Homo sapiens: one gene and its partner. The protein of the gene in region 2 purifies or fractionates together with the protein of the main gene of each other region. This does not show direct contact. Each region holds a gene or a part of one and is shown on either strand. Other genes may lie near its edges.

Region 1 (4,062 bases), on a different chromosome or scaffold from region 2:
CCAGCATCTCTGATTCTCCCTGGTGCCCCCAGCTCAGGAAGAAGGTGGTAGTGGGGAGAGAGGGTCAGGGGGGCTTGGCAGGGATGCAGGCACCATGACTTTTGTGACCAGTTCCTAGAGACGCATGGGTGTAGCCTCAGGAGGAAAGCGAGAGGAGCTTTACCATGGGAACGAAGGAAAGGGACAACATTGGGAGGCAAACGTTGGGAGACTAGTCCAGAAACTTGCAGTTGAGGATACAACAGGGTCCTAGTGTTTCCTCCCTGGGTCAGCGTAGAAGTAGAGCTTTTTCACTGTCGAAGGCGGGATTGAAGTTAGAGATTGCCCTGGCAGAGGTTGGGGAGAGAGGGACTAGTAGGTGGTACATGAATGTCTTCTCTCATTCTGCTAGGTCCCTCTCAGTGGAAGATAGATAGGCTGGTGGGTGGCTTGTTCTAATTGGAGGCTGGGGAAGGAGCAAATGAGTGCCTTGGAGCTTGGGAAAGATTATTTGACAGCCTTTCCCATGATGTGGGGCCCAACAGGTAGCCACTTCAAGGGAGGGGGCTGTCGTTCCATTTGGATTTCGGAGAACTGGGCGTTCTCAAGATCCTTCCAGGTCTCTCTGGTGAGGCAGCAGCCATCCCCAATGTGTTTCCAGGTGGGCTCGAAAACTTGCTGCCACATGAAGGCCCAGCTTCCATATGGTTCTGCCACATGCTCCCAGAAAAAGAGCACACCTCCCTGGGAGGGATGAGAGAGTTAGTGTCACTTGGCTCCATTCTGACCCTGCTCCCTATCGCGCTGATCAAGACAGTCAAACTTCTTGGTGAAATGGGAGCTGCTGGTCTGAGAGTTCATGGAGCAAACTGTCGTGCCCCTGACCTTTTCTGCATCCCCTGCTACCGCCTTCAAAGTGCATGTGAAGAACCTCATAACTGAAAGGAGTGGCTGGTGGGAGATCTTTAAAGCCTGACCAGAATAACCGAGGGCATGCAGAAGGGGAAACTGAGAAACAGGAGTGGAGGGCTCATTGTATTATTATTATTATTATTATTTTTTGAGACAGAGTCTCAGTCTGTTGCTCAGGCTGGAGTGCAATGGCGTGATCTCGGCGCACTGCAACCTCCACCTCTCAGGTTCAAGCGATTCTCCTGCCTCAGCCTCCCAAGTAGCTGGGATTACAGGCATGAGCCACCACGCCCGGCTACTTTTTGTATTTTTCAGTAGAGACAGGGTTTCACCATGTTGGCCAGTCTGGTTTCAAACTCCTGGCCTCAAGAGATCCACCTGCCTTGCCTCCCAAAGTGCTGGATTACAGGCGTGAGCCACCTCGCCCAGCTGGGCTTATTGTATTCTGAGATACACGCACAACCTCTCTCACAAAACCCAGATGCATGCACAAGCTGCTTCCTGGACATCGCTGTGAACATCCCAGGGAAACCTCAGGCCCAACTCTTGACTGAAGCTGGGGTTCCTCAAGCTCCTCGCCTCACTATACTCTCCCTAGGTGATCTCAAACCTAGTAAGTCCAAAACAGCTTTCTTCCATCTCAGCAAATGGCACTTTTCATCAGCTCTCCCCTCAGTTGCTCATGCTAGAAACCTGGAAACTATTCTGAACGTTCTCTCCACAGTCTGATGGATTCTACTCTACTTCCCCTACTATCTTTACCTAGAACACTCTTTTATTTTCCCCACCCCGTCCACACTCTGCTTAATCCCTCAGATCTCTCTCTCTCTCTCTCTTTTTATTTATTTATTTATTTTTTTTGATACAGGGTCTCACTCTGTGGCCCAGGCTGGAGTGCAGTGGTGCGATCATAGTTCACTGTAACTTTGAACTCGGGCTCAAGTGATCCTCCCACCTCAGCTTCCTGAGTAGCTAGGACTATAGGCATGTGCCACCACGCCTGGCTAGCTTTTGTATTTTTTTTTTTTTTTTTTTTTGTAGAGACGGCATCTCACTATGTTGCCTTGGCTGGTCTTGAACTCCTGGGCTCAAGTCATCCTTCTGCTTCAGCCTCCCAAGCACAGATCTCGATTTAAACCTCAGTTCCTTAGGTGTCCTCCCCACTCCCCTCCCTGTCCCATGGTGGTAGGTGATCCTCCTGTTGCTTCCACAGCACCCAATTGTGCCCCGTCATGGCACTGGTCATGTCTCCTATTCACCAGCAGGTAGAGGTGGATGGGGTGTCTAATGTGCTACTTACTACCTCAGACGCCCCATTCTGGGGGCCGAACCCTGGGGCGGCTGATGCTGCGTTTGCCTGCCCCACACCCATCCCCTTCCCACCCTGCTTACCGGTCTCAGTACTCTCCGGACCTCCTGCAGGACCTTCCTTGGGCTCTGCACAGAGCACAGCACCAGAGTGCAGACCACCACATCCATGGAGCCATCAGCCAGCTGTCTCATGTCCTCTCCAGGAGCCACCACAAACCGCTCATATTGGAGGTGCCTGTTCTCAGCCATGCTCTTTGTCAGGAACTTCTCAAAGTGGGGATTTGGGTCTAGGCAGGTGACCCTGCAGCCCGGTGGGTAGAACTGAAAGTTGGCTCCGGTTCCGCAGCCCAGCTCCAGTAGGGCCACTTTCCCGGAGGCTCCTGTAAGCCCCTTTATCTGGCTGAAGAGCTCCCGTTTCTTGCTCTCCATCTTGCGGTTGCTCTTGGGAGTCAGCACGGCCATCAGGTAGGGGAAGTAGCTTTTGCACAGGGGCTGCCAGCAGCCCAGCAGAGCCATGAGGTGCAGGGGCAGGGTAAGAAGCAGCACCAGCAGCTGCAGGAGTGGGACCAGGATGTCCATGGCAGACCAGCTCTGAGCTGTGCTTCCGCTGGGGCACTGGCTTTTTCCCTGCTCAGCCTCTGCAGGCGCTGGCGTCCCCTCCCGCTGTGATAGGACTTTGCTCCTTGTCTCCTACTTGACAATTTCCTATTTGCCAGAGTTGAGTGGGTGTATGGAATTCCTCCAGAGGGCGCAGGTCCCACAGCCCCACAAGCTCTTCAATGACTTTTATGTGGGCGGAGGGACAGGTGGTACCCATGTTCCTGAGTTCTGGGGCACTGTGCCCAGCTGAAGGGGGGCAGGGGCTGCTGAGTCATCTCAGAGGGAGTGGGAAGGGGTAAGGGGATATGTTTCAGATGACAGACTCATGGCGGGGGAGTGTCGGGGGCTGGCAGGGCGTTGGGGGTGGGTTGGTAGTGGTGAATGCTGGGGACAGAGTTGACTCATGGGACATATCCTGGCCTCATTTCGTCCTCAGGTCAGGCACTTCAGAGGGGCCATAGGAAGGGAAGGGTGCTCTTGGCAGAGGAAAAAGTAGGTGTACAGGACAGAGACAGCATGCCCTCTCCTGGAAAGGGTGAGAAGTTTAGTTCTGTGGGGAATGGGGTAAGTTGGACAAATAGGGGGAAGTGAGGTCAGAGAATAGCCACTTTTTAGAGATCCTTCCCTCCCTCCCTCCCTTCCTCCCTTCTTTCCTTCTTTCCTTTTTTTGAGACAGGGTCTCTGCTGCCCAGGCTGGGGTGCAGTGGCAGCAGTCTGGGCTCACTGCAACCTCAATGTCCCTAGGCTCAAGTGATCCTCTTACACCAGCCTCCTGATTTTCTGGGACTACAAGTGCATACCACCATGCCCAGCAATTTTTTTTTTTCTGTAATTTGTAGAGACAGGGTTTCACCCTGTTGCCCAGGTTGGTCTTGAACTCCTGGGCTCAGGTGATCCACCCACCTCGACTTCCCAAAGTGCTGGGATTACAGTTGGGAGCCACTGCGCCTGGCTGAGAAGAATTCTTTTTACAAAACATTATTAAACAACTTTTTTTGGAAGAGGCAGTACATTCACTTAGTACAAAATTAAAAAGATACTAAAGAGATTACAGGGAAAATTCTCTCTTCTACTCCTGTGACCCAACCACTCAGATCTCCTCTCTGGAGGCACTAAATGCCATATTGCCAATTTCTTGTGAATCCTTCCAGAGATGACCTGTGAACGAGCAGGGAACACACACACCACGTGTTTAGATCCATGTACATATATACATATACATATTCCCTTTTCTTTTACAAATAGTAGTATATTGTACAC
Region 2 (3,500 bases):
TAAACCCAGCACTTCGAGAAGACTGCTTGACCTCAGGAATTTGAGCCCAGCCTGGGCAACATGGCGAAACCCTATCTGCACGAAAAACACAAAAATTAGCCGGGCGTGGTGGTACGTGCCTGTGGTCCCAGCTAGTTGGGAGGCTGAGGTGGCAGGATCACTTGAGCCCAGAAGATGAGGCTGCAGTGAGCCAAGACTGCACCACTATACTTTAGCCTGGGTGAAAGAGCAAGACCCTGTCTCCAAAATATAAATACATAAATATAAAAGTTTTTTTAAAAAATTTTAAAAATAGCCAGCATGGTGGTGTGCACCTGTAGTCTCAGCTACCTGGGGGGCTGAAGTGGGAGGACTGCTTAAGCCCAGGAGGTCAAGGGTATAGTGAGCCATAATCATGCCACTGCACTCCAGCCTGAGCGACAGAGTAAGACTCTGTCTCAAAAGAAACAAACAAACAAACAAACAAACAAAAAAACTTGCCAGGCATGGTGGCTCATGCCTGTAATCCCAGCACTTTGGGAGGTCCAGGCAGGAGGATTGCTTCAGGCCCCAAGTTTGAGACCAGCCTGGACAAAAGTGAGACCATTGTTTTTTGGTTTTTAGATTTTTAAAAAGAAAATAACTACACATAAAACAAAGCCAATTAATGGACAATAGGTAACATGCTCCTTTTCAGAAATGTTTTTATAACATGGCAAATCCTTTAAGTTTACAATAATATAGCACTAAAATAGCATGTTTTCTAAACACTATTCCATGCAGTTATTTATCAGTGGTTCCACATATACCCATCACTTCATTTTAAAAAGGATTTGAGAGAGTTTGCAAATCACTAAAAAAAAAAAAAAAAAAAAAAAAAGACCACAAATTTGACACTCAGTTGCCCAGGAACCAATCTGAAACATAATTCACCATATCCATGAGGAGTATACTACTTATTCCCAACTTTTAAAAATAAGAAATGGCTTAACCAGAAATTATTCAGAATCACAAAAATGAAAGTGGGGAATGGACAGGGCATGACTTTCTTGTGTTTAGAAGCATCCACTTCCTGGGAACTTGGACTTTATATTAAGAACTGATACCTAATATTTAAACCATATGTCACTCAAAATCTTAAAATTTCTAATACATGCTACTACGCCAATAAAAATGATCATATAATAAATGGCTTCATGATAGTAAAAACTAGTAATTTTTAAGCCCCAACCCATAATCTGTATTTATGAGCAATATTCAATTTTATACAAATTTTCATGGCAATTAAATTTTGGCAGTCTCTGAAACTGATTTAATAAGCACTAATATTCTTTTCTTTGTCTTTACATTCATGGTTTCCAAGTCCTATCAATTCGTCTTTCATACAGCCTCTTCGTAAACTAACTATAAAAACAGATTCACAGCCAATTAAAGAAAGCGTGCTTCTTATACTCTTATATTCCTCCCTTCTATTCCATTTTCACTGAATGAACAAATAATGAAATAGTTCAGGCCCTACTCATCTTTCTCAGAACTACTGTAATAGCTTTCTAAATAATTCATCTGCTTTTCCTTCCCACCTATCTTGAATATTGTCACCAATTTTCTAATACTGCTTTCACGGTGCCTTGCCTCAGTTCAAATAACCTTCAATGGCTGTCTTCCCAAAGCCAAAAGCTCTAATTCGAGAAGGGGTGAAAAACAATAACTTTAGAAACAACAATTAAAAAAAACAATTTTGGTTTCATAATATAAATTACCAAAAGCAAGGGCAACTGGATAGCAGAGCATGGATTAAAGTGGAATGATAAAATCCAAATTCCTTAATTTGGCATTCAGTATCTTTCAGAATCCAGATCTACATATTTTCGGTCTTAATTAACCTTGGTTTAGAACATGTCCAGAGACCAGTTCGAAGTCACCCTTAATTATGTTTGCACTGCTCTCAAATCGATTTCTAGCCAGAGTTTTCTGCGCATATCCTCAAAGCCTAACTTAACCAACCACTAAGCCAAGTATTTTCCCATGAAAAATGGCCCTCAAGTGAGAGGTTTTAGTCTCACTTCAGTTACTGCATTGCGATGGAGATGCTCTGGGCACAACAGCAAACAGTAAAATTACAACTTATTAACAGATGAAAATCAGGGCTTACTCATAAATAACGTAAACAGCAATGTTAAACAGACAAGTGTCAGTGATCTAGAAACCCTCTCTTCCAGGCAGGCTAGTCTATGCTTCTAACCCTGCTCTGCACATTTCTCACCTTTGTCTCACATCAGTCCTCTCAGTAGCCCTGAATCTTCCAAACTTATTTTAGTTCCAAAATCACAATATAATTATTTAATAAGCATATTTTTATTTTTTTAAAAAGCTAAACATTTTTACCATTGCCTGTTAGAGACCCCCAATGATCTGGGTGGGTAAGGCCACCTCTTCACTCTCCCACTAGTTTTTCTCACTAGTCTTACACTAGATTCTCAGACACAAAGAGCTCATTCCTGCCTCAGGGTTTTGCCCTGAAGTTGCTTGGAAATGTTTTCTCTCTGCAGCTCAAATCTCACCTTCTAAGCCTGTCTTAGTGTCACCTAACCTAAAAAAGCCCCCATAAATCCCCATCATTCTCTATGCCATTATCCTGTTTATTTTCCTCATAACACCACTATTCTGGGTTCTTTATTTATGTGCTTATTATCTGTACTCTCCCAAGGGGGAGCATGTGTCTTGCTTATTGCTATACCCTCAAAGCTTAGAATAGATCCTGTCTCTTGGTAGGTAATCAATAATGGGTTGAATTAATGAACAAACTCTTGAATGCATTAAGAAATCCAGACACATTGAAAATGGTTAACTATCCACAACCATAATCACAATGTTCTTACACTTACTAAAAAAACTAAAGTTTCCCAATAGGTATCATCAATATGGAATTAGGGAACTCTGTAGAACAGGCAATATTCTTTCCCCATTGCCTTCCAACCTCAGCATTCCAACACACAAGATTCCAAGAGAGTGCTGTCACCCCCTGAATCCCTAATGTTCAAAGACAGAACTATTTTCTTTGTTCCCATACCAATACAAGATTAGTATGCTTTTGTCAATCATTAAACTTCCTGTGGCCAGGCGCAGTGGCTCATGCCTGTAATCCCAACACTTTGGGAGGCCAAGGTGGGTGGATCACTGGAGGTCAGGAGTTCAAGACCACCAGCCTGGCCAACATGGTAAAATCCCGTCTCTACTAAAAATACAAAAATTAGCCAGGCGTGGTGGCAGGCGCCTGTAATCCCAGCTACTCGGGAGGCTGAGGCAGGAGAATCACTTGAACCTGGGAGGCGGAGGTTGCAGTGAGCCAAGATTGCGTCATTGCACTCCAGCCTGGTGACAAGGGGGAGACTATCTCAAAAAAAAAAAAAAAAAATTCCTGTTTAAAAATATATTTCATATTTTTCTCTTACCTCAGTTTCCCTCAAGTATGTCTTTTTCATAAAGAAAAAGGAAAAGATTGAGTTACTCCTCATCTTCTA

Evidence for each region. The genes of interacting proteins can lie anywhere in the genome.
Region 1: the proteins of RTN4 (region 2) and TMT1B purify together in Homo sapiens (affinity purification with mass spectrometry; 3 studies listed by BioGRID and IntAct, with this or other methods). This does not show direct contact.

What each region holds. Positions count from the first base shown.
Region 1 is NC_000012.12:55,680,474-55,684,535, reverse strand, and holds the start of TMT1B (thiol S-methyltransferase TMT1B precursor), read right to left. Parts: upstream 2,801-4,062; 5' UTR 2,782-2,800; coding exon 2,284-2,781; intron 724-2,283; coding exon 487-723; 3' UTR 1-486. UniProt on the Homo sapiens protein: Thiol S-methyltransferase that catalyzes the transfer of a methyl group from S-adenosyl-L-methionine to alkyl and phenolic thiol-containing acceptor substrates.
Region 2 is NC_000002.12:55,043,952-55,047,451, forward strand, and holds part of RTN4 (reticulon-4), read right to left. Parts: intron 3,376-3,500; exon of another isoform or gene 2,865-3,375; intron 1-2,864. UniProt on the Homo sapiens protein: Required to induce the formation and stabilization of endoplasmic reticulum (ER) tubules. They regulate membrane morphogenesis in the ER by promoting tubular ER production.